Regions from separate parts of the Homo sapiens genome. Here regions 1 and 3 are each linked to region 2. The links come from fine-mapping of genetic effects on gene expression. A gene starts in region 2. Each other region holds a variant in brackets. All regions are shown on one strand. Distances are from middle to middle. Region 1 overlaps ASPHD2 (aspartate beta-hydroxylase domain containing 2). Region 2 holds the start of TFIP11 (tuftelin interacting protein 11). Region 3 overlaps HPS4 (HPS4 biogenesis of lysosomal organelles complex 3 subunit 2).

What was found. PIP is the estimated chance that this variant, and not a neighbour inherited with it, causes the effect. A credible set is the group of variants that fine-mapping cannot tell apart.
Region 1: its variant is the best candidate, but not a certain one, in a credible set for the expression of TFIP11 in whole blood (TOPMed, PIP 0.78).
Region 3: its variant is the best candidate, but not a certain one, in a credible set for the expression of TFIP11 in whole blood (INTERVAL, PIP 0.72).

Annotation. Positions count from the first base shown.
Region 1 is chr22:26,434,214-26,442,394 of GRCh38, reverse strand. It overlaps ASPHD2 (aspartate beta-hydroxylase domain containing 2), which reads right to left. Exons shown (of 4, transcript NM_020437.5): 2 at 7,894-8,181. Among named protein-coding and RNA genes, the nearest start is that of ASPHD2, 9.0 kb to the right of the region's middle. RefSeq lists an enhancer at 1-379 and a silencer at 1,692-1,848. The variant A/G (reference allele first, on the strand shown) is at 4,400.
Region 2 is chr22:26,509,208-26,517,379 of GRCh38, reverse strand. TFIP11 (tuftelin interacting protein 11) reads left to right here and starts at 4,907. Exons shown (of 15, transcript NM_012143.4): 1 at 4,907-4,986; 2 at 5,205-5,281; 3 at 6,678-6,763; 4 at 7,099-7,316. The coding sequence starts at 7,108. TFIP11-DT (TFIP11 divergent transcript) reads right to left here and starts at 4,848. Exons shown (of 2, transcript NR_144529.1): 1 at 4,346-4,848; 2 at 2,812-3,968. RefSeq lists enhancers at 4,085-4,622, 4,845-5,024.
Region 3 is chr22:26,466,257-26,474,426 of GRCh38, reverse strand. It overlaps HPS4 (HPS4 biogenesis of lysosomal organelles complex 3 subunit 2), which reads left to right. Exons shown (of 14, transcript NM_022081.6): 5 at 1,488-1,595; 6 at 2,009-2,125; 7 at 3,614-3,708; 8 at 5,804-5,876; 9 at 8,165-8,170. Among named protein-coding and RNA genes, the nearest start is that of HPS4, 13 kb to the left of the region's middle. RefSeq lists an enhancer at 2,268-3,467. The variant C/T (reference allele first, on the strand shown) is at 4,590.

The sequences.
Region 1 (8,181 bases), 75 kb after region 2:
GGGGTGATTTGCCTTACTGAGAGTTTTTGACTTCTAAAGCACCTGACCTGCCTCACACCTCTGGAGCCCGTGCTATGGTCTGAAGGCTTGTGGGCTTGTGTCCCTGCAAATTCCCATGTTGAAACCTGACCCCAAGGTGATGGTGTTAGGAGGTGGGGCCTTTGGAAAGTGATCAGATCATGAAGGTGGGGTCCTAATGGGAGCAGCATCCTTATAAAACAGGCCCAAGGGAGCTTCTTTACCTCCTTTTGCATCTTTTTTTCTTTTCCCTTTTTTTTTTTTTTTTTTTGAAATGGAGTCTCTCTCTGTTGCCCAGGCTGGAATGCAGTGGTGTGATCTCGGCTCACCGCAACCTCCACCTCCCAGGTTCAAATGATACTCCTACCTCAGCCTCCGGAGTAGCTGGGAGGCACTGGAGTAGCTTACAGGCACCCACCACCTCACCCGGCTAATTTTTTTGTTTGTTTTGTTTGAGACAGAGTCTCACTCTGTCGCCCAGGCTGGAGTGCAGTGGCGCGATCCTGGCTCACTGGAACCTCTGCCACCTGGGTTCAAGCGATTCTCCTGCCTCAGCCTCCCGAGTAGCTGGGATTACAGGCACCTGCCACTGTGCCAGGCTAATTTTTGTATTTTTAGTAGAGATGGGGTTTCACCATCTTGGCCAGGCGGGTCTTGAACTCCTGACCTCGTGTCCACCCGCCTCAGCCTCCCAAAGTGCTGGGATTACAGGCGTGAGCCACTGCACCTGGCCGAATTTTTGTATTTTTAATAGAAATGGGGTTCCACCATGTTGGCCAAGCTGATCTCGAACTCCTGACCTCAAGAGATTTGCTTGCCTCAGCCTCCCAAAGTGCTGGGATTACAGGCATGAGCCACAGCACCTGGCCTGACATCTTTTTTTTTTTTTTTTTTTTTTAGATACAAGGTCTTGTTCTGTTGCCCAGGCTGAAATGCAGTGGCTCCACCATAGTTCACTGCAGCCTTCACCTCCTAGGCTCTAGAGATGCTCCAGCCTCACCCTCTTGAGTAGCTGAGACTATAGGTGTGCACCATCATGCCCAGCTAATTTAAACTTTTTTTTGTAAAGATGGGGTCTTGCTATGTTGACCGGGCTGGTCTCGAACTCCTGGCCTCAAGCTATCCTCCCACCTTGGCCTCCCAAAGTGTTGGGATTACAGGCAAGAGCCACTGCTCCTGGCCACCTCCTTTCACCATGTGAAGTCACAGTGAGAAGGTGTCATTTATGAACAAGAAGCAGGCCTTCACCAGACGCCAAATCTGCTGGCACCTTGATCTTGGGCTTCCAGCCTCAGAACTGTGAGTTCTACATTTTTGTTGTTTATAAGCCACCATCTAGATCTTCACTGCACTCTTGGCAAAAATTCATTCCTTCATTGGCTTCATCTATTCTGGGTCATGGATTCCTTTTATGAAAGTCACAGACTGACATTTGCACTACACTCTGAAGCCTAACCAGGGGACCCCCAGAAATCCAGGGAGGTTGGGTTTAGAACCTTGCCTTACCCAGTAACTGTGTTTACTGTAGTCTCCCCTCTAGGACTATCTCAGTTGCGATTAAAAAATCAAAGGCTCACACAGTGTTCTCCTCCTTGGGTTCTAGCCTTTTAATCCGTTTTGAGGCTGGAGAATGGCGTGCTCTTCGTCTGCCCTCATTCTGGGAAACTGGAGGACACTTCTAAGGTAATGGCTTAGGTTCAAGAGGAAATAGACTGGCAGCTTTGTAAGAAGCCGTATGCTTGGCTGGGCACAGTGGCTCACACCTGTAATCCCAGCACTTTGGGAGGCTGAGGGGTGGGCAGATCGCGTGAGGCCAAGAGTTCGAGACCAGCCTGGTCTCAAACATGGTGAAACCCTCTCTCTACTAATTATCCAAAATGAGCCAGGCATGGTGGCAGACGCCTGTAATCCCAGCTACTCGGGAGGCTGAGGCATGAGAATTGCTTGAACCCAGGAGGCGAAGGTTGCAGTGAGCCGAGATTGCATCACCGCACTCCAGCCTGGGCGAATCGCACCACTGCACTCCAGCCTGGGCAACAGAGTGAGACTCTGTCTCAAAAATAAAAATAAAAAATAAAAAATAAGCCGTATGCTTCAACCGGCCAGTGGGGTCCGGTTGGAACACTGCCATGTGTGACCCTCAGTCGCCCTTTCCAACACAAGGGTCTGCAGAAACACTTGGCCCCCATCACTACCTTGATGTCCAGAAAAGAAGGGGCCACCGTGGCCATCTAATGATTTCAGAAGGGGTTGGGTCAGCCCAACAGCTCTCAGGAAGGCCCACCCAGGGGGAAGCAGAGTCCTGGAAGAGGAGCTGGGATGGGTGGTGGTCTCATCTGTCTTCAGTGACTCACTGTGACCACAATGACCCTGGGCCAGTTGGCATTCCCCTCTGATTTAATGTCCTTTAGCATAAAAATGAAATAGCTTTCCTTCCAGCAGCCAGAGTATTTTAATGTATTCTTTGAACCAGAAATAATGGTTCCAGGAAGTACGTTCACAGTAATAATTCAAATAAAGAGGCCACATGGAGGAGACAGAAGGACGGAGGACTTGGGGACAGACGACTGGTTGTGACTCTTATGTGCTGTGTGACTTTGGGCAAGTCACTCAGCCTCTCTGAGCCATACCCTCACCTGTAAAGAGGGGACATTAGCATACTGAACCTTCCAGGGCTGCTATGGGACTTCTATCCTTGTTACCAATAACTGAAGACCTACTGTGTCTTCCTACTCAGCTTTGTGCTAAATACACACTTAACAGGTATCACTTCACCCACTTTCCAGATGGGGTAACTAAGAAGTTAAATGACCTGCTAAAAAGTTACCATTTAGTGTTGCTGAGTCAGCCTGACTCCAAAGAACAGGCTGTTATAAAACTGGACATGATGATATAAATGCTAGTTGTTATACTATTAACAGAGGAATTAAAGTGATTGTGGAGTTTTCGATTTTTCTTTATTTATTATTATTTTTTTTGAGACAGAATCGTGCTCTGTCGCCCAGGCTGGAGTGCAGTGCCATGATCTCAGCTCACTGCAGCCTCTGCCTCTTGGGTTCAAGCAATTCTCCTGCCTCAGCCTCCCGAGTAGCTGGGATTACAAGTGTGCACTACCGTGCCCAGCTAATTTTTGTATTTTTAGTAGAGATGGGGCTTCACCATGTTGGCCAGGCTGGTCTCGAACTTCTAGCCTCAAGAGATCCACCTGACTCGGCCTCCCAAAGTGCTGGGATTACAGGCTTGAGCCACTGTGCCTGGCCTGATTGCTGATTTTCTTGTAGTTAACATGTCTGATAGTTAATACTGAGTTTCAACTTGATTAGATTGAGGGATACAAAGTATTAATCCTGGGTGTGTCTATGTGGGTGTTGCCAAAAGAGATTAACATCTGAGTCAGTGGGCTGGGGAAGGCAGATCCACCCTTAATCTGGCAGGCACAATCTAATCAGCTTCCAGCAAATATAAAGCAGGCAGAAAAACATAAAAAAGTGAGACTGGCCTAGCCTCCCAGCCTGTATCTTTCTCCAGTGCTCGAAGCTTCCTGCCCTCAAACATCGGACTCCAGGTTCTTCAGCTTTGGAAACTGACTGGCTTTCCTTGCTCCTCAGTTTGCAGACAGCCTATTGTGGGACCTTGTGATCATGTGGGTTAATACTTAATAAACTCCCCTTTATATATATATGTGTGTGTGTGTGTGTATGTATGTATGTGTATATATATATATGTATGTGTATATATATATGTATATATATGTGTGTATATATATATGTATATATGTGTGTATATATATGTATGTATATATATGTATGTGTATATATGTATGTGTATATATGTATGTGTATATATGTATGTATATATATGTATGTATATATATGTATGTGTGTATCTATATATATGTATATATATGTGTGTGTGTATATATATGTATATATATGTATGTGTGTATATATCTGTGTGTATATATATATCCTATTAGTTCTGTCCCTCTAAGAGGACCCTAATATGTTTCAACTCTCAATAGTACATTTCATTAAATCAGCTGAGACTGCTCATCCTGACAGAAGCCATGATTTCCCACTATGGTTAACAGCAGCTGGGGGAGTCAGGGCTGTAAAGACGCCCAGATGGAGGGACTCAGAGGCTACGTTTTCCTTTGGCGTGTGCCCCTACTGGCTGGTTCAGGTGGCGAAGGCCTTTAGGAATGGGCAGTTCTCTGCAGGGACAGCCACCCCGGGGTTTCAGAAAGAAGCTCCCCTTTCTCTGGGCCACTAAATGATTCATCGCCACGTGCCACGGTGCGATAGAAAAATGGCCTGGCCTGCTGGCTTGACACCCCCCTGCTTCTTGTTCTCCGCCTCCCCTTCATTCTGCTCCTGCCCCC[A/G]TTCCTGCCTGTTGCCCACAAACCAGCTTAGTTGGCAGAAGAGCTCAATTCTTCCCTAAACAGATCATTCCAGTGGCTCTTGAGGACAGTGACAGGTCCCACACATGGCCTCAGATAGTCCCATATGCTCCTCTATGGCTCAAGCTTTGCTGCTCTGTCCCTACCGAGCCCTGAAAGAGGCAGGAAGGAGGGTAGAGAAAGGGCTGTGTCCACCAGTGGCCCCCACTTCAGGCGGCTGGCAACCGGGCACTCAGGGTGGGCAAGGGGAACATGAGCTGATCTACTGTTACCACCCGGCTAGACCACCTAGAAATCTGATGACATGCAGAAAAGAAAAACAAGAGTCTAACTGTGCTTCTTTAGCTAGAATTTGCTGAACATATTCATGCATTTTCATGAAGTATCTGCCTCCCTGGTAACATCTGCCTGGTGAGTTTCAGAGGTGGTTTTCTGGAAGTTTGTGGCAGTGCATCTGGAATATCCCAGCATTGTGTACGATGCTGAGTGGGGGGTGGGCCTGAAGCTGTCCTGTGGTCCCATATGAAGTCGGGACTAGGTGATGCCACCTCTAGAAGTAGCTCACAGCAGGGCTCAGCAAATATGTCTCGAACAAATGGGCTGTGTTAGTGAGGAGCAGTGGCTGGGTCTTCAGTGGTCCACAGGGACAATTCCATCAGTCACAGCTCAGGCAGAAGGCAGAAGAAAAGCAAGCATTGGCATTTCAAGAGCACGGTTCTGGAACTGCAGGTGCCTCTACCTTCAGCCAGGTAACCAGCAGAGGTGTGGCCACCAGGTACGCACCAGGCTTATCCTGCTTCTGACCTCATTCTCTGGACTCCCTCTCTGTCAACACACAAGGTCACATAAATCCGACACACCTTTGTTTCCTTCCTGGGTGGATATTAATGTGGGCATGATAGTGTAAAGAAGGAAACGCTGAGAAAACCCAACCAGGGAGCTCGCCTTGGCCGTGGAGAACAAGCCACGCCACAGTGGGACGTCTTCCAAGAAGGTTTCCTGCTATCTACAGGAACATGGAGGGCCTACTTTTTCTGGCAAGTACCTAGCTGGGCTGAGAAAGGAATGACAGGCCACAGGCCACAGTGTGAGCCAGCGTGGGCATGTTTTACACACACACACACACACACACACATGCATGCATATCATACAGATGAACAACAAGTGTTAATCTACAGAAAGCAAACCCCAGATTTTCCTTGCTACCATCACTTCCTACTCACACCTCTTTGAAATTCTACCACATCAGTCCTCAAATGCCCTTCCCCAGATGTCATTCTGAAGTTTTAAAACAATACATAAAGGCAAACCTTTCAAAAGAAGAGCATCACTCCCCATTGCCCACGGCCTCCATTCTCAAGCCTGGCATCAAGGGCCTCTGAGGTTTGCTCCCACCTGACCTGTCCAACCTCAGCCCACACTACTGGCCTCCCCAGCAAGCCTAGACCCGGCTTCCCCAAGCCCCAGGGGATGATTCCGCTCCCTCGCTCCACCCTGGCGGCACCTGATTTCTGTGTGGGGATCCTCCAGTGTCAGACCCACCTCCCCAGGGCACCCCGTCTGCAGCCAAGTGAGGCTTGGGGCCTCGCACAGCAGTTTTGCTAATGACCATCACCTGGATTATCATCCCATCACTTAGATTAGCTTACTGTCCACTGCCCTCTACCTGCCAAGCATTTTACACATATTACTTCCCACTCCTCAAAACAGCCAGCAAGTGGGAATCGTCATCTCTGTTTTAGAGAAGATAAAACGGAGGCTTAAGGAGGTTCAGAGCCCTGCCCAAGGTCACTCAGCAAATGGGGCGAGGCCAGGACCTGAGTCCAGATCTGTTTGCTTCCGAAGCCTGTTCCTTTCCCACTGTTTCCTGGGGGCAGGGTCTATGTCTTATGGATCATTTTTCACATGGTCCAACACAGTCCTTGATAATAGCTACTAGCTCCCATTCATCAAATGCTGTCACGTGCCAGGAATCCTGCCAAGGGGCCATGTAAGATGCCACTCATTGAATCCTCTCAACAATCCTGTGAAGTAAGTACCATCTCCCCATTTTACAGATGAAGAACTGAGGCAGAGAGAGACTCAGTGACCTGCTCAAAGTCTCACGGCTGACTGCTGACCAGGAATTCAGGCCACCTCCCCCAAAGCCTCCACCCAGTCCGCCCTTTACTCTTGAAATTCCTACCATGTCAATTGCTCAAATCTCATTATATTTTTCTTTTCTTTTCTTTTCTTTTCTTTTCTTTTCTTTTCTTTTCTTTTCTTTTAGTGCAGTGATATCCTCCATCCAAACCACATCTTACTCAGAACCCCCACACAGACAGCAGGAGAAGCAGAGCTGCTGAGGGTGAAGAGGGCTCGGGGGCCCCCAGCTCCGGCTCCTTCCCAGGCAGCCCTGAGGCTCCTCTGCAGAACGTGGTTATGAAACTCCCACTCCAACCCATGCACCAGGTTCCTCCTGCTGCTCTTCCTTCCTCCCTACTGAAGCTGAAGCAGCGTTGTGAACTTTGTAAAGCTGGACGCTGCCAAGGCTGTCTCTGCACACTCTAATCTGAGATACTAACCGGTGATGCCACCATCCCAGAGACGAGCTTTTTATCGCCACTCACCAGGAATAAGGCATTCTGGGGAACTAATACCTCCATGATTAAGTTGTTTTAAGCCTACTTTTATTGAATACTTGCTCTATTTTAGGCTCTGTGTGCATACATACAATACACATTATCTGATTGGATCCTCAGAATAACTCTTTAGGAGAAGATCTTTTTACCTCCACTTCCCAAATAGTGAAATTGAGGCTCAGAGAGGTGAAATGACTTGCCTACAGTAGCACAGCTCGTGGTGGGGCCAAGATGCAAACAAAGGCTGTCTAACTCCAGTCTTTGTTTGCAAAACCACAGCCGCACACACAGTACGCATACGACCAATTTTCTCAGAATCGGAGTAAAACAAGCTTATCACCAAGGATCATTTCATCCTTGATGACTGCAAAGATGCTTAAGTATCTTTCACAGCCTCCTGGACATCATTATGAAGCTCGGTAATCATTTTAACAAGTCTTTGGCTCTAGAACGACACTGTCCCCATACGGTAGCCACTAGCCGTATGTGTCACTGCTATTTAAATTAAATTAAAATTTAGTTCCTCAGTTACAGGAGACAAGTTTCAAGCACTCAATTAGTCACATGTGTCTAGTGGCTACCATTTTGGACAATGAAGATGGAGAACATTTCTGTCACTGCAGAAAGTTCTTTGCACAGAGCTGCTGTCAGAAATTAGGTTTGCACTGATCACAAGATTTCTTTTTGACTCAATCTCTGCTGTCAAATTGTTTACATGCAATTCATCAGTTTTTGCTAAAAGTGAACAATGCGAAAAGGCGCAATTCTGACCATTTGAGCTTTCGCGATGTTTTGATGGAGAGGGGCTGAGCTTGCAAATGTGCATGCCGGGAGACCCCTGTCCTTGCAACATACCTAAATGGCATCGGATGCGGATGTTGGTGGGTCCATAGTGCTCCGTTATCACAGTCCCAGGGCTCAGCACAGAGATGCACGCGTTCCCAAAAACATTGTTCCCAATACAGGTCCGAAGGCTTCCGAGCAAGCGGTACGTCCGTGGGCACTTCCTACAGTTCCTGGGAACACAAACCCCCTGATTGACCAAGTAAAAGGTGAACCACTCCCCGCTGGGGGTGCTGTTCATTTTCCATCCTTGCGGGAGGCTGCAGTTTGAGAAAGCTTTGTAGAGGGTCTCAAACTCAC
Region 2 (8,172 bases):
CAACATGGTGAAACCCCCATCTCTACTAAAAATATAAAAATTAGCTGGGCATGGTGACGCACACCTGTAGTCCCAGCTACTCGGGAGGCTGAGGCAGAAGAATTGCTTGAACCTGGGAGGTGGAGGTTGCAGTGAGCTGAGATTGTGCCTCTGCACTCCAGCCCGGTGACAGAGCGAGACTCCATCTCAATAAATAAATAAATAAATAAAAATAAAAAATAAAGAAAATAAAAAAATGGGCCAGGCGTGGTGCCCCATGCCTGTAATCCCAGCACTTTGGGAGGCTGAGGCAGGTGGATTGCCTGAGGTCAGGAGTTCAAGACCAGCCTGACCAATATGGTGAAACCCCGTCTCTAATAAAAATACAAAAATTAGCCGGGTGTGGTGGCATGCGCCTGTAGTCCCACCTACTCAGGAGGCTGAGACAGGAGAATTGCCTGAACCTGGGAGGCAGAAGTTGCAGTGAGCCGAGATCACGCCACTGTACTACAGCCTAGGTGACAGAGCAAAACTCAGTCTCAAAAAAAAAAAAAAAAAAAGATATTGCAGAAATGACAGTGTGACTCCAAGACTAGGCCATAAAAGACCTTGTGGCTTCTGCCTTGCTCTCTCTTGCTTTGCTCATTTTGAGGGAAGCTAGCCACTATGTCATAACGACACTTGGTAACCATGTGTAGAGGCTCACATGGCAAGAAACTGAAACCTGCCAACAACCAGCACCAGTTTGCCAGCTATGTGAGAGAAGCACCTTGGAAGTTGGTCATCCAGCCCTGGTCAAGCCTTCAGATGGCTGCAACCCCATGAAAGACCCTGAGTCAGAACCACCCAGCTAAGCCACTCTCAAATTCCTACCAAAAGAAATTATGTGAGATAATGTTTACTGGTGTTGCAAGCTGCTACGTTTGGAGGTAATTGTTATACTGCAATAGATAACATGTAGGTACTCATTAATTATTTGTTAATGACAAATGAATAAATGAATGATGAAGGCTGTGGTTTCTCCCCTTACTGTGTTTTGCGGATATTTAATTTCCAGATAAACACCCCGAGCCTAAGGAACCTCATGTTCCAGCTTTCCATATAAGGATAGAGTCTTCACGAATTCTTGAAAGATAAGTAGGGTAGAAACCATCTGTAAGAAACATTTAGAGGGAAATCAAATTGCTAATCTCAGCTGATCTGGGTTCTCAATTCTGCCAAGTTAAGGACACCATATATATTTTTGGGACAAAATGCAAAATAAGAATAAGCCATGTGCAACTGTATAATGTCACTGTCCTAGAAAAAGTACATGTGCTAGTCTTTAAATATATCAGCTTTGAAATGCCACTTATGGATTGTTTCTATGGTACCAACCTATTTAAAGTTGTAACTAAGTGACGATATTTTTTTCCCGAAATCTTTTGTAGGCAATATGGAAAGTGTGCTGTATGGCATAGGCTGTAGAAATAAGAGGTTAGGAATGTGGACTCTGGGGTTATAACAAACTACCTTAGAAGGCTGAAGAATCAAAGAGATGATGTCTGCAGAGTTTGGCTCTGTGGCCCTGAACACACAGGAATCATGATGTGGGACCCCATGCATGGTTTTGCAAAGAAAGCACCTGCCTGGGAGTTTGAGCTCCTGGGTTTCAGGCCTGGCCCTGTCCTTAAACTCACTGTGTGGTGCTGGCACCTCCACTCTGCCAGGGGCTCCCCCACCGCCTCAGCTGCGAAAAGAGAGGTATAGACCCATGAGTGCTGGAGGGCCCTGCCAGACTCCTTCTGCCCAAGGAGCCTTGTTGCTTTGGCAACCCCTTCTGCGAAGGCCACATGTCTGAGCACCTCATTGGGAATGTAGAAATGAGTGTGGATGTTCCCAAATCTCAAAGCAATGTTTTTGTTTTTTTTTTTCCCCTCTAGGAAATGACAGGAGATCACGATAGATATGAGACCTTGAACCTAAAGCTCTGGTTGCCTTGTAAAACTTTTCCTTGTTTTTCAAAGGCTGGGCATTTGATCCCAGAAATCCTGAAAAACCATGGATTTTTGAGACTGAAAGGGGTATGACATTGGGTTTTTAAAAATGAAGGCTGGCGCAGTGGCTCACGCCTGTAATCCCAGCACTTTGGGAGGCCAAGGCAGGTGGATCACGAGGTCAGGAGTTCGAAACCAGCTTGGCCAACATGTTGAAACCCCATCTCTAATAAAAATACAAAAAGTAGCCAGGCGTGGTGGCGCACACCTGTAATCCCAGCTACTCAGGAGGCTGAGACAGGAGAATTGCTTGAACCCAGGAAGCATATGTTGCAGTGAGCTGAGATCGTGCCACTGCACTCCAGCCTGGGTGACACAGTGAGACTCTGTCTGGGGGAAAAAAAAATTAAAACAAATAAAAAAACAAAAATTAGCTGGGCGTGGCGGCGTAACGCCAGCTACTCGAGAGGCTGAGGCATGAGAATCACTACAGCTGCGCCTGTAATGACAGCTACTCGGGAGGCTGAGGCATGAGAATCACTTGAATCTGGGAGGTAGAGGTTGCAAATGAGCGAAGATTGTGCTGCTGCACTCTAGCCTGGGCGACAGAGTGAGACTCTGTCTCAATAAATAAATAAATAAATAAATAAGAATATAGCCACAATCCTTTAGAAAGCTCTTACCATGCCAGGAGCTTTACATGCACTAATTATCACTTTCTGTTTTTGTTTTTCTCTAAACAACTCTCTTAGATCAGTACTGTCACTATCCCCAATCTACAGATGGAAAAATTGAGGTGTAGAGAGGTGAAGCAACCTGCCCTCGGGCCCATACCTAAGAAGTAGCAAAGTCGAGATTTGGATCCTTGAAGTTTTTACTCCAGAGCTTTCATTTTAAGAAATTGCAAAAAAGTTATTAAGTACAGAGAGAAACATTTTCCCTGTAATAATTTGAAATTAAGGTGACCATTTGATGCCTTATCCCCTGCCAAATACATTGATTTACTTTCCAGCAAACAAGAACATCCTCTGATGTAACTTAACAGGCAACCATGAAAATCAGGAAATTAACACGGACACATCATTACCACGGCATTGTAGGCCCCATTTAAACTTTTCCAACTGTCCCTGTAACTTCCTTTCAAGCAAAAAGATCCAGTTCAGAATCATGTGTTGTGTTTAGTTGTCATGCCTCTTTGGTCCCCTCCAGTTTGGAACAGTTCCAGGGTCTATCTTTGATTTTCATGACCTTGGCACTTTCTAAGATTACAGTTTTGTATACAGCATGTCTCTTTACGTGGGTTTGTCTGATATATCCTCATGATTACATCCAGGTTATGGATCTTCAGCAGGAATATCACAGGGGTGATGTTGCAATCTTCTCAGGGCATCCTATCAAGTGCCACATAACTTCACTTTGTCCCATTCCTGACAATGCAGACTCTGATCACTAAATCAGAGCCTGCACTCTTAACTACTCCATGACAGTCCACAAAGGTCCCTTCTTCAGAAGCCACAAAGTGAGTTCCATTTGGTGAAGTAAATCCACTAGCATCAGTCCCTCATGATCAAAGTAATTGCAGCTCCATAAAATCTGCTGTAAAGCCATAAACATAGCTACAGAAAAGCCAAGCGTATGTATGCTTTTGGCTTTTGGGCTACAAACAGATGTAAATACATTCAGGCACAGACTAAAAACACTTTTCTCCTCTGTTTCCCTTACTCTGCTCCTGGCAGGGCTTGTAGTCTGTTAGACCCTCTCTCCCGGCCTTCAATGCTAAAACCACATTTTCCATTTCTTTCCTGAGTACATACTATGTGTCAGGCACAATGATTCTACATGTCACTAAGAATACAGAGATCATTAAGACACAGTCATCATTCCTAAGCAGCCCACATTTAACTGGGTACACAAAAATTGTTGTTTAATTCTTAACAACTACTTGATGGTAGACTTAAGTATTTGACTCCAAGTCCCGTGCTCTTTTTACATTCCAACAATTGCCTCTTGAATCTTTTCATCACATAGAGCAGAGAGAGAAAAATTAAGCAAAAATTAATAGCTAACACTTCTTCAGCACCTACTGTTACCAGGTACGGTTTTCATTGCCTACAGTTTTATCTTATTGAATCCTTAACCATTTTGCAGAAGAGAAAACAGGCTTAGATGTAATGACTTGCCCAAGGTCCACAGCTGCTAAATTGCACTCAAGGTTGGAACTCCAGAGCCTGTGGACACTTAAATGTCTACAAGGAGTCCTTGGGCTAGTGAGGGCTTCCCAGGGAGGGCCCATGACTGTTCTGCTCATTGTATCACATTGGCCTAGCACAGGTGAGGGGCACTTAGTATATTTTAATTAGATCAATGAATAAATTAATGAATTTACCAACCTGCTGGAAACGAAAAGAATGGAAACAGCTCCTGGAGAGAATACTTGGGAACTCCAGAGTTTGCCCATTCATTCCTTCATTCCCTCTTAAACTCCTGCATAAAGGCCACTGCCCTGTGCCCACGACGGTGCTTATACCGAGAGCGTCAAAGATACAGGAATCACAGTCTTGACCTTCATTATTCCCATTTGAATGCTGTGTCCCAGGCCCCTTATTGTCTCACAGTATTTACCACAACTACCGTATGGGCTAATCCTACATCTCTATTTTACAGATTTACAATCTCAGAGTGGTAAAGTCTCCTTAGGCCAAGGTGGCTCAGCGGATTCCACACCAGTCATCACAGGCTGAGCGTCACAGTACAAAGCAGGAGCGGCAGGGAGGCCGATTCCGCGGGGAAACCACTCCCCAGCTATTCTAGGCCTTGCAAATCCACCCCTCCTATCTAAGATCCCAGCCGGCCGCTCTGCAGCCATATCCGCCGTAGCGTCCCACGCTGCCCTGGCAGCCAGCAGGACATCCGCTGTCGACTAACGTCATTTCCGGCGCGCCGGCCACGGTGCTTCCGGGTTCTGGTGTAGGAGCGGCGTCTTCTCGCGCGGATGGTGAAGCTGAATTTGGTACGCTGGACCCTCGGACAGGTGAGCACGGCTGGCCACAAGGGGACTCAGCGCCAGTGAGAGTAGGGACGAAGGCTCAGGGAAGGCGAGCTTCGGTCCAAGCCGTTGGGGTGTGGGGAGGGGAATCCATTTCGTAGACAGCTCTGCCGAGGCACGGAGAGGGGCGGTGCTGCTTGGGGTCAACTGGGATTTAGGGCTTGGATTCATTTAAGAACCTGAGCTTCCTTCACCAAACCTAGACAGCAAGAGAGAGACAAGCCCGAGGCCTGACTTCTAGCACTCCTGAGTTTGAGCCCTATGAGCAGTGGAACCTAGGGTAAGTTACTAACTTCTCTGAACCTCCTTTTTCTTATCTGAAGCATGAAAACTAACGGTACCTACCTTGCAGAAGTGTCTTGATGCAGACAGTTGATAATCGGTCTCAAGCGACCAGCATGTACCTAGCATCTACTGATAAAGGCTTCATAACTTGTGACTACTCGGGGCTTATTACCATTTACTATGCCCACGCAGGCAGTGGTATTATTTAACTTTATGTATTTGAGATTCCCCGTCTTTTCTGAAAATCCTTCTGTCCTAAACACTCCTGGAAGAGGTTGGGACCCGTTGCACCCAACCGGTGCACCAGTGAGTAGAAGAAGGCAGAGATAACGTTTTGCCAGAGGTGACCAGAGTTTGACACTGCCTGTGGAAGTAGTGAACTCCGTGTGCCTTAAGGCCGCTTTCAGCAAGACAAGAATCACAATTGCTGTCACCTATGGAGTGTATTATTGTGTAGTGCACCATGCTTGGCGCTTCACGTGCATATTTAATTCTCATACACTGGGTATCTGATAGAGTTGAATTTGAACTCAGGCTTCGATTTTAGCCTGCCTGATTTTACAGTCACTTTGCTAAGTTTACTCCCTAGTCCCATAATAATAATGATGATTGTGATGGTAAATACTGAGTGTCAACTTGATTGGATTGAAGGATACGAAGTATTGATCCTGGGTGTGACTATGTGGGTGTTGCCAAAGGAGATTAACATTTGAGTCTGTGGGTGGGGAAAGGCAGACCCACCCTCAATTCAATCTGTGTGGGCATAATCTAATCAGCTGCCAGCACGGCAAGAATATAAGCAGGCAGAAAAATGTGAAAAGAGAGACTGGCCTAGCCTCCCAGCCTATATCTTTCTCCTGTGCTGGATGCTTCCTGCCCTCGAACATTGGACTTCAAGTTCTTCAGCTTTGGAACTTGACTGGCTCTCCTTGCTCCTCAGCCTGCAGACAGCCTATTGTGGGACCTTTTGATCGTGTGAGTTAATAGTTAATAAGCTCCCCTTTATATATGTATGTCTATTCCATTAGTTATGTCGCTCTAGAGAACCCTGACTAATACAATGATTAACCTAATCATGGGACTAAAGTAGAAGCTATCGTTTCTTGAGCACTTATTTTGAACTCATTGAATTTGCTTTGTAAGCCTTCTCTAAGGTTGGTATGGTAGTTAATCCCAATTTAAGAAAGACAACTGAATCTGGTCACCCAGCTACTGTGAGGTAGATTCTCTATATCAATCTCTGGACATCTGACTATTAAAATAGTGTTCATAATTACTACAGTCTTTCAGTTCATCAGAAGAAATTCATGTTTTGTGAGGAAAACTGAAAATTTTGTTTCATCAAGTAATGTATTTCAAAAAGCATATTCTAAAAAAAATCACTCTCCTAGGACCACCAAGGATCCAGATATAATTCTTTCCTCAGTAATAGAAAAAAGAATCTGGGATCTAAGAAGATACCTACTCATTTTCTAAGGTAATAATGTACAAAATAACCTACTTAGTTATTTTTGTGTGGTTTGTGTATGTGTGAATATGTGTGATATTTATGATATTGACTAGGACAAGGAGATATGTACTTTTAAAGAATCATAGACTGTTAGGAGTAGTATTTTGTTCACCTGTTTTAGTACTGATTGTTATCTAAAAGTAGGTTTTTAATATCTTTTTTATTGAATAGTAATGCTGACTTTAATGGACTTTGAATTTGGAGAAAGTTCTGAAAGCAGCAAGGAATAGAGACTCACAAGGAATCCTTCGACTGCTGCCCCCAGGACTTACGGCCTGTGCTCTTTTTGTCTCTTCCTTTAGTGACTGGCCATGTCATTGTCCCACTTATACCGGGATGGGGAAGGCCGCATTGATGATGATGATGACGAGCGGGAGAACTTTGAGATCACTGACTGGGATCTCCAGAATGAGTTCAACCCCAACCGACAGCGCCACTGGCAGACCAAGGAAGAAGCCACCTACGGGGTGTGGGCAGAGCGAGACTCGGATGATGAGAGGCCCAGCTTTGGAGGCAAACGGTATTGCCTGGCATGGGGGCTGCTTCACCTTGCTTTAGGGAAGAGGGGGAAGATGGACAGGGAGTGGAGGAGATACCCTGATAAGTATACTTCTCACCTGGCCTTGTTGAGACTGTTAGCTGTGACATCATCTCGAGAGGTCTGGTTTCCTCTTTAGGCTAGAGTGCTGCTCTTTCACTGATTTATTCTATTTATTATTATTTTTTTTGAGACACGGTTTCACTTTGTTGCCCAGGTTGGAGTGCAGTGACGTGCTCTTGGCTAGCTGCAACCTCCACCTTCCAGGTTTAAGTGATTCCCGTGCCTCAGCCTCCCGAGTAGGTGGGATTACAAGCAAACGCCACCACCTCCAGCTAATGTTTGTATTATTAGTAGAGACGGGGTTTTGCCATGTTGGCCAGGCTGGTCTTGAACTCCTGACCTCAAGTGATCCACCCACCTCAGCCTCCCAAAGTGCTGGGATTACAGGCGTGAGCCACCACGCCTGGCCTCACTGATTTAATTATCAGTGTTTATTGAGCGATTGCTATGTATTAGGCCTGTGCTATAGACCCATTCTTGCCTTCCTAGAGCCCAGACATTAGAAGATGGAAATAGGCATTAACAACTCAGACGATCAAACTTGTGACTGTGATGCAGGACATGAGGGACATGAGGACATGAGGGAGAACACATTTTAGGGCATTTCATCTATTCTGAGAGGTCAAGGAAGATTTCTGTGGAGAAAAGTGACCCTTAAGCTGATATGACTGACAGTAGAAGGTAACTAGGGTGGTAGAAGAGGTCCCAATATGCAAAGGCCCTTGATGGGAAGCATCACGGTATCCACAAGGATATGAAAGGCTTGGGGGCTGGA
Region 3 (8,170 bases), 43 kb after region 2:
ATTTGTGAATGGTGTGAATAGAGGTCAAGGATCTTTTTTTTTTTTTCCACCTGGATAACCAGTTCTTCCAGCATCATTGTTGAAAACATTTTCCTTTCCCTATTGGATTTCCCTTTGGTTCCTTTGCCAAAGATCAGATGACCATTTAAGCGTGGGTCTATTTCTGGACTCTTTTCGGCTTTTCCACAGATCTGTTTGAAGATTCTGTGTGAGTACCACACTGTCTTGATTTCTATAGCTTTATAGTAAGTCTTGAAACCAGATAGTATAAGTTCTCCAACCTTATTCTTTCTCAAGATAGCTTTGGATATTTCAGGTTCTTTGTGTTTTCATTGTACAATCAGTTTGTGGTTTCTGAAGAAAAGCTGGTGGGATTATGATTGCAATTGCATTCAGTCTGTTCATCAATTGGAAGAATTGAACACTTCTTACATGCCAGACTGTTGTAAGCTCTTGGATTACATCTGGGAACAAAGCAAAGATCCTTGTGCTACTGTAGCTTACATTCAGAGGGAATTTTTGTTTATTTGTTTTCTGTCAGGGTTTATTAGTTTAAATATCTGATGATTCCCTTAGGACAGATTCCTAGAGGTAGAATTACTACATCAAGTAATAGGAACTTTTTCAGGCTCTTTAAACATATGACCAGATAACTTTCTAACTCAGCAAGTACTTTTTTTTTTTTGAGACGGTGTCTCGCTCTGTTGCCAGGCTGGAGTGCAGTAGCGCAATCTCGGCTCGCTGCAACCTCTGCCTCCCAGGTTCAAGCGATTCCCCTGCCTCAGCCTCCTGAGTAGCTGGGACTACAGGCACACACCACCACGCCCAGTATTTTTAGTAGAGACGGGGTTTCACCATGTTGGTCAGGATGGTCTCGATCTCTTGACCTCGTGATCCACTCAAAGTGCTGGGATTACAGGCATGAGCCACCGTGCCCGGCCAAGTATTTATCTTCTGTGGAACTAACCACTACGCTCAGCATTTTGGAGATCTAGGACTGGGAAGATTGCGGTCAGTTCTTGCTCTTAAAGCACTCTATCCAGCTGGAGAAACATGATGGCCATTCATGAAGGAGTTTGAGTCCTGTCCATTGTTTGTAATGGAATCCAGATTAAACATCTACTGTCCAAATAACAGTCCTAACAATGCAAGGGTCAGAAAAAAGGTCAGCATTATTGGCTCGAGGTAATAGAACAGACCTCATGGAGATACTGAAATTGGTGGTGGGCACTGAAGGTTGTAAGTTCTGGGGAAATGAACAATAAGGAAAAGGACATTTGAGATTGGAAAACATGAATTGAGGTACAGAACTTACTTGTCCATGGAGATTAACTTGGCCAGAATGAAGGGTGTGGACTCAGGGACAATAGAAGATCAATTTCGATGGGCCAGTGAAGTCAGGTAATTGAGAGCCCTGGATGCCAGGATTCTGGGCTTGGACTCAAAGAGAAGGAAGATGCTTGTCTTCCTGGTTTCTCTCTTTACAGGTGCTGGGCTGTGCTGTGGAGCTCCCTGATGTCAGCTGCAAGCGGTTTCTGGATCAGCTAGTTGGATTCTTTAATTTTTACAATGGACCTGTTTCCCTAGCTTATGAGGTACAAGTATGGGGTTGAGGAGTCTTACATTGGGCCTCTTTATAAAAACCGGTATTGCCAGAATGCAGCACTTACTCTGGGGTCTTGTATACTTCATATAAACACATTGTGTCTGGGGACAAGGTCAGGAGCTCTTGGAGGCCCCTCATATGCCTTTGGGCCTAGTGGCATAGGTCACATTTATTCCAAATGTTTATCCCCATCTCCTCCCTGGGATGTTTAGAAAGCGCAGGCCCTGCTTGCCACCCCCACGCGGCAGGCGCCGTGGATCTGTGATGGGATAGGTTTAAAACAGGTCCTCCCTTCCGGTCAGTTTCCTGTGTGAGGAACAATTTTTGAGGTAGTTGGGACTCTGGCCAAAGAATCTGTCCCTCAAAATCTCAGATATTGACCTGAGGCTCTTTCTGTTTTAGAACTGTTCTCAGGAAGAACTGAGCACGGAGTGGGACACCTTCATCGAGCAAATTCTGAAAAACACCAGTGATCTGCATAAGATTTTCAATTCCCTCTGGAACTTGGACCAAACTAAAGTAACATTTTCATCCTCCTTATTCATTTTATATGTAAGACTAGGGCTTCTGGATACTTTTTTAATATTCCTGAAGTGAACTATATCTGGAAAAGTGAGTAGAATGTCACTTCTCAGGCAGGGCCATGACACGGCAGGTCACCTCTCAGCCTCATTTCCCTTATCCAAAGAATGGTGTCAGCATACCTGCCTTCTTGAACTGTTTTGATGATCAAGTGAAGCAGTACCTCAAATGACACCAAGTAAATGCTCAGTAAAGGGAATTAGTATTTTGTTCATGCCTCAGAAGTGTTGAACTCAGTAATCTGAAGGCCGCCTCTCTTGATATTCATATCATATGATCTAGTTATTCTCAGCATCAAAAATGCCCAGCATGAACATTTCAAAAACAAGGTTGCTGTCTTTGAGAGAGAATGGTTGGGAACTGTTTTTGTATCTCTGAGCCGCTCCGTTTGCGGTTGGCACTCAGTGAAACCTAGGCTGCTTGTGTGGCTGGCCTGACCACCTGTGCTGCCCCATTAAGAGCCAGCTACCTGAGCCCTGACTCACAGCCCTCTCCTGTGTCTCACTGCGATAGTAAATAATGTCCCTGTAGCAGGGGTGTAGCACTGTGGCTCAGCCTTCACAGAGCATGACTCCACCAGACATGGGGAAGGGTTTTCCCTGCTCCAGTCTGGAAAACTTCCTGTAGCTGGCCCCAGAGCTTTATAGAATGGCTGGCTGGGATGGCACAGTCTTGAGGCTATGAAGAATAAACTTCTTAATGTGTCAGCAGCTCCGGAGGCTCCATTAACACTAGTTCTAACAGCTGGTGGATACTTGCTGGTTCTAGCTGGCAGGTGGAAGTCTGAGGAGGCTGCTGGTTATTGCTGGCTCTTCCTGACCAGGTCCAGATGCTTTTCTTGTATTTTTAGGGACTTCTAGGCCCCTGACTCCATACAAGGAATGTGGAACTGAGGCATATTTCCCCGAGTGAAAGAGCATGATGTTTTCATTTTATGTGATGGAATAGAGTCATGGAACCTGGTCAGACATCAAGCCACCTGTATCACCATGGGGATTGTGCTTCAGAAGGAAAGTGGAGGATAGGGTAGGTGGGTTTCACCTGGTACCATGACATGTATTTATAGGATACACCCTCCTCTTCTGCTGCCGTGAGGTCTTAGCATTGTCAGGGTAGACAGTCGGTCTCCCAGGCCATCTACTTTGACCCCTTTGAATAGCCATATGCCATATTTGCTGCACCTTCTAGCTTCTGGACAGGCCTCCTTGTTCTAAGAATTTGGCATTTAGTGGTGTCAGCAGTTCTGAGTATAGAGAGGTAGAATAGTCCCAAGCCATGGCACAGCTTTCACTGTGTGACACATTCTCCTTTTCCAGGCTTTGAGCTACACCCTGTCCAGCTGTTCTGTACAACCCTTTCCCCTTTTCTCCCTTCCTGATTGTGAGCATGCTGATGGGTGGGCATGATGCCTCTTGCCCTGCACAGGTGGAGCCCCTGTTGTTGCTGAAGGCAGCCCGCATTCTGCAGACCTGCCAGCGCTCGCCTCACATTCTCGCTGGCTGCATCCTCTATAAAGGACTGTGAGTAACTCCAGACCCCTTTCTTCCAGCCCCATTCCCTTGCTGCACAACTGACCATCAGCCACCTCCAGATCACAGTGGGGAGCCCAGTCTCTGGCCAGTTCCAAGTGGGCTGGTTCGGCAAATATCAGGTAGTTTAGATTTGACTCAGTTTAGAAAGACAGGTGTGTACCTGTCTTTGAGCAAAGCTGAGAAATTGGAAATAGTTGTGTTCAGAAAAGAGTTAAGAATGTCCCTATAATTCTCAGTATGGGGCATGCTGGAATAGTTGTCAGTCTGCAAAATGCTAATGCAGAGTCCCGAGCGTTGCCAGCAGCCAGCACTGTAGTCAAGAGGCATGGAAGGGGCCTGCTGTGACCCTCCTCCTGCTGCCCAGAGACCCTGGTGTGCTTGCCTCAGCTCAGCTCTGCAAAGCAGCCTTACAGGCCCTTATCCAGCTGCCTTCAAGCCTCTTGGCTGGGCCAGTGTCTTGGTTGGCCTCTGAGAATTCACTTCACTTCTTCATGTAGTTGGAGGGCTTCTTGGTGAATCTGAGTGCCCAAGAGCCACTCTAGGTCATCTAAGGCCTCTCTCCTCATGGAGGGTTTGCTGTCACAGCCCAGGGCAGGCAGGGCCATTGCGCTGTGCCCGGAGCTTCCTGAGGAGCAGGCAACTACTGTGTAAATGGAGAAGCACTGAGGCTCTCGCAGGGGCCCTTGGGCCAGACAGGCTCGGCCCCAGATCCTCCCTTCTTTCGCCAGCCATGCGGCCTTGGGCAAGTTGCTTAGCCTCAATTTTCTCTTCTGGGAAATAGACATCCCTTGTGAAGAATGAAATGAGATGACAGATGCGGAAGAACCGAGCATAGACCCTGGTGGGCTTTGCACTCTTCTTCCTTGCCC[C/T]GGTTCTTATCATGATGGTTCTGAATCAGCTGTGGGATTTCCAAGTTCGTCAGTGACATACCCACCAAAGACAGTATTTTTTTTCCCCTTTTCTCATTTTGCATTTCTTAAATGTATATATATATATTTTTTTTTCTTTTTTTTTTTTTTGTAGGGACGAGGTCTTGCTATGTTGCCCAGGCTGGTCTCAAACACCTGGCTTCAAGCGATCCTCAGCTTCCCAAACTGCTTGGATTATAGACATAAGCCACTGCACCCAGCCTGTATTTACATTATACGGCTAATACATGAATACATTTTCACTGTAAACAAATCAATCAATAGAGGAACACACAGAGCACAATTTAAAAGCCCCCCTTCTTTCTTCACCATTTTTGTTTGTTTGTTTTTGAGACACAGTCTTGCTTTGTTGCCCAGGCTGTAGTGTAGTGGCATAAACACAGCTTACTACAGCCTCGACCTCTTGGACTCAAGTGATCCTCCCACGTAGCTGGAACAACAAGCACTTGCTACCACACCTGGCCAAGCTTTTGATTTTTTTTTTTTTTTTTTTTGTAGAGATGGGATCTCACTATGTTGCTCATGGAGGTCTCAAACTCCTAAGCTCAAGTTATTCTCCCACCTCAGCCTCCCAAAGTGCTGTGATTGCAGGAGTAAGCCACTGTGCCCAGCCTCTCCCTCACTCTTAACCTGTCCTCACCATTGGCAGTTTGGTGGGCATCTTGCTCTTTCTGTGTGTTTGTCCCCACTGGTACATGTATGCATATATTGCTTTTGTTTATTTTTGCTATCTCCTTAAATAGGATCACATGGTTTCTCAACGCATACAGTGAAGATTTCCTTACCGGTTCATATGGGTCTACCTCATTCTTATGAGGACTGCATACTTTTTGGGATTCTGGCTGTGTTGTGCTTTACTGTCTTGTTGATGAACATTTTGGTGGTTTACTCATTTTTTAATTGTTTTTACCATTCTCCCTGTAATGAATATTCTTACGCATACATCTTGGTACAAGCTGAGTCAAAGGGTTTGGATATTTTAAATGTTGGTAGGAACTGCCAGAGTGCCCTCTGTAAGGGTTTTACCAGTTGAAACTCCCACCAGCCAAGTCCCCAAGATCCTCGTCAACACGGGCTGTTAGGCATCTTTAAAATTTGGAGTGTTTTGGTGTATTTCGTCTCATGGTGTTCTTGTTCTGTGTGTGACCTCCTAGGATTGTCAGCACCCAACTCCCGCCCTCCCTCACCGCCAAGGTCCTGCTTCACCGAACAGCACCTCAGGAGCAGGTATTGTAAAGTCCACCCACCTGGCTGGACAGCATCCCCCAGAGCACTGGTCACTGAGCCTGAGGCTGGAGGGATCAGGAGCAGAGGCCGTGGAGCAGTTGTTTCACTTGGTCTTGTCAGGACCCCAAGTCCTCCAATGTCATTCTCCTCAGTAGTGAAGCCATTGGTGAGGCTGAAAGAAAATGTTTTCTTCCACGAGCTAGGCCTGGATAGTTGTTTTTTCTTCAAACCAAGGAAATCTTGGTTGAATTCGACTTCCCATAAGAATTTGATGTCTCTTTATGTCAAAGAGATGTTAGACTTTTCAGAGACAGACTGTAAAGGATGTGTCTTTAGAAAGATTTAGGGGGTTGGGCACGGTGGTTCACACCTGTAATCCCAGCACTTTGGGTGGCTGAGGTGGGCAGATCACTTGAGGTGAGGAGTTCAAGACCAGCCTGGCCAACATGATGAAACCCATCTCTATTTAAAATACAAAAATTAGCTGGGTGTGGTGGTGCACACCTGTAAATCCCAGCTACTTGGGAGGCTGAGGCAGGAGAATCGCTTGAACCTGGCAGGCAGAGGTTGAGGTGAGCTGAGATCGCGCCACTGCACTCCAGCCTGGGTAGCAAGAGTGAGACTCTGTCTCAAAAAATAAAAATAAAAATAAAAAAATAAGGAAAACAAACTCTTCTAAAATACTTCCATTTTATATTTATTTAATTGTTTTTATATTGAAAAAAAAGCCATGCATGCTCATTGAGAATAAAATTGCCCATCTTTGAACTGTACAGGGATAGCCACTGCCAGCATCTGGCATATCTCCTTCCAGTCCTTTTTTTGTTTTGTGTATGAAGCTGTGGTTTCCAGCGTATCATGAGGCTGTCTTTTTACATGTATTAGTGAACAGGCATGTAAAATGCTGGTAGGGCTCTATTCAGCCTCCTCAGCCACTGTGGCTATGGGTGTCAATTCAAGTAGCCTTTCTGGGAAACACTTTGATAATGAGAACGTTAAGGATGCCCTTTATTTTTTTCCTAATAATTTGACTTCTAGGAATATATCTTAAGGAAATAATGTAACTGCTGAAAAAAATTTATACTCAAAACTTGATCACAACAAGCTTTATGAAAGTGAAAAATCAGACAAAACTTGAATGCTTAAAGTAGGAGGTGGCAAATTATGGCCTGTGGGCCACCTGCCTACAAATGAAGTTTTATTTGGCTGCTTTTGAGCTATAATAGCAGAACCAAGTAGGTGGGACAGAGACCATATGCCCTGCAAAGCCAAAAATATTTACTGTCTTGTCTTTTGCACAGAAAGTTTACTAATTACTGGTCTAAGGTAGGTAAATGATTAATTTACTCATATCACTTAAACCTTCATAAAATTTTAATCAGCCGTTTAAAATGGCCAAAGATGTTTTAGTGGCAGGAAATGCGTGTTACTGTTTTAAGCAGAAATATGAAATTTTATATAGTGTGGCCTCAAAAGTATAAAAACTGCATAGGCTTAAGGAAAAAATACCCAATATTAATAGTACTAGCTTGGGGATGAGGGATTGTATGTGATTTTTTTTTTCAACGCTTTGTCTAGAGTAAATTGAGGTTAGGCTTAGTAATCTAAAACATAGTTTTTTAAAAATCACCAAAAAAGGAAGAACACCATATCATTCTAAGATTGAAAGTCATTTTGGCTAGAAGAGCAGTTCTTGTTTGGTTTGGTTTTGTTTTGGTGGGTTCTTTTGGAACCCTCAGATTGAAACGAGAGATGTTTTCATTTTTGAGAAAATCATCAGGTTTTAGGCCCTGATTGTGAACCAGAACAAACGAGAGATTGGGTATAGCATTTTGTTTAAGTCAAATCCTTTATCGTGAGAGTCACAGTATTTTGACATTTTTATTATAATGGAATTTATGTGAATTCTACATCAGGGCTGTGGCAGATGTGACTGTATTCTAGAATATGAGTTCCCCAAAGGTGTAAAAGAGAACAGGAATCCTCAATTTTATTCCCAGAAGGGAGAGAGACTGAGAAAATCAGAACGTAGAGTGTGATGTGAGTTTGGGTGGAGCTGCTGCCTTGCAGCCTGTGTGGGCCCAGGTTCTTGCTTCATCCCAGCCATAGTGGGAGCCAGCAGCTTGGGGGAGCTTCTGTTCCATCTGCTTGGCTCTTAGCATGTGGTTGGGACAAGCTTTCTGGGCCTGGCTAAGTTTTATGAACAGATGGCACAGCAAATTCCTGATGGTTAGGTCAAGAGGAGAATGTGGTGCCCAGCGCCAACTTCTGTGTGTGTTTGTTTTCAGAGACTC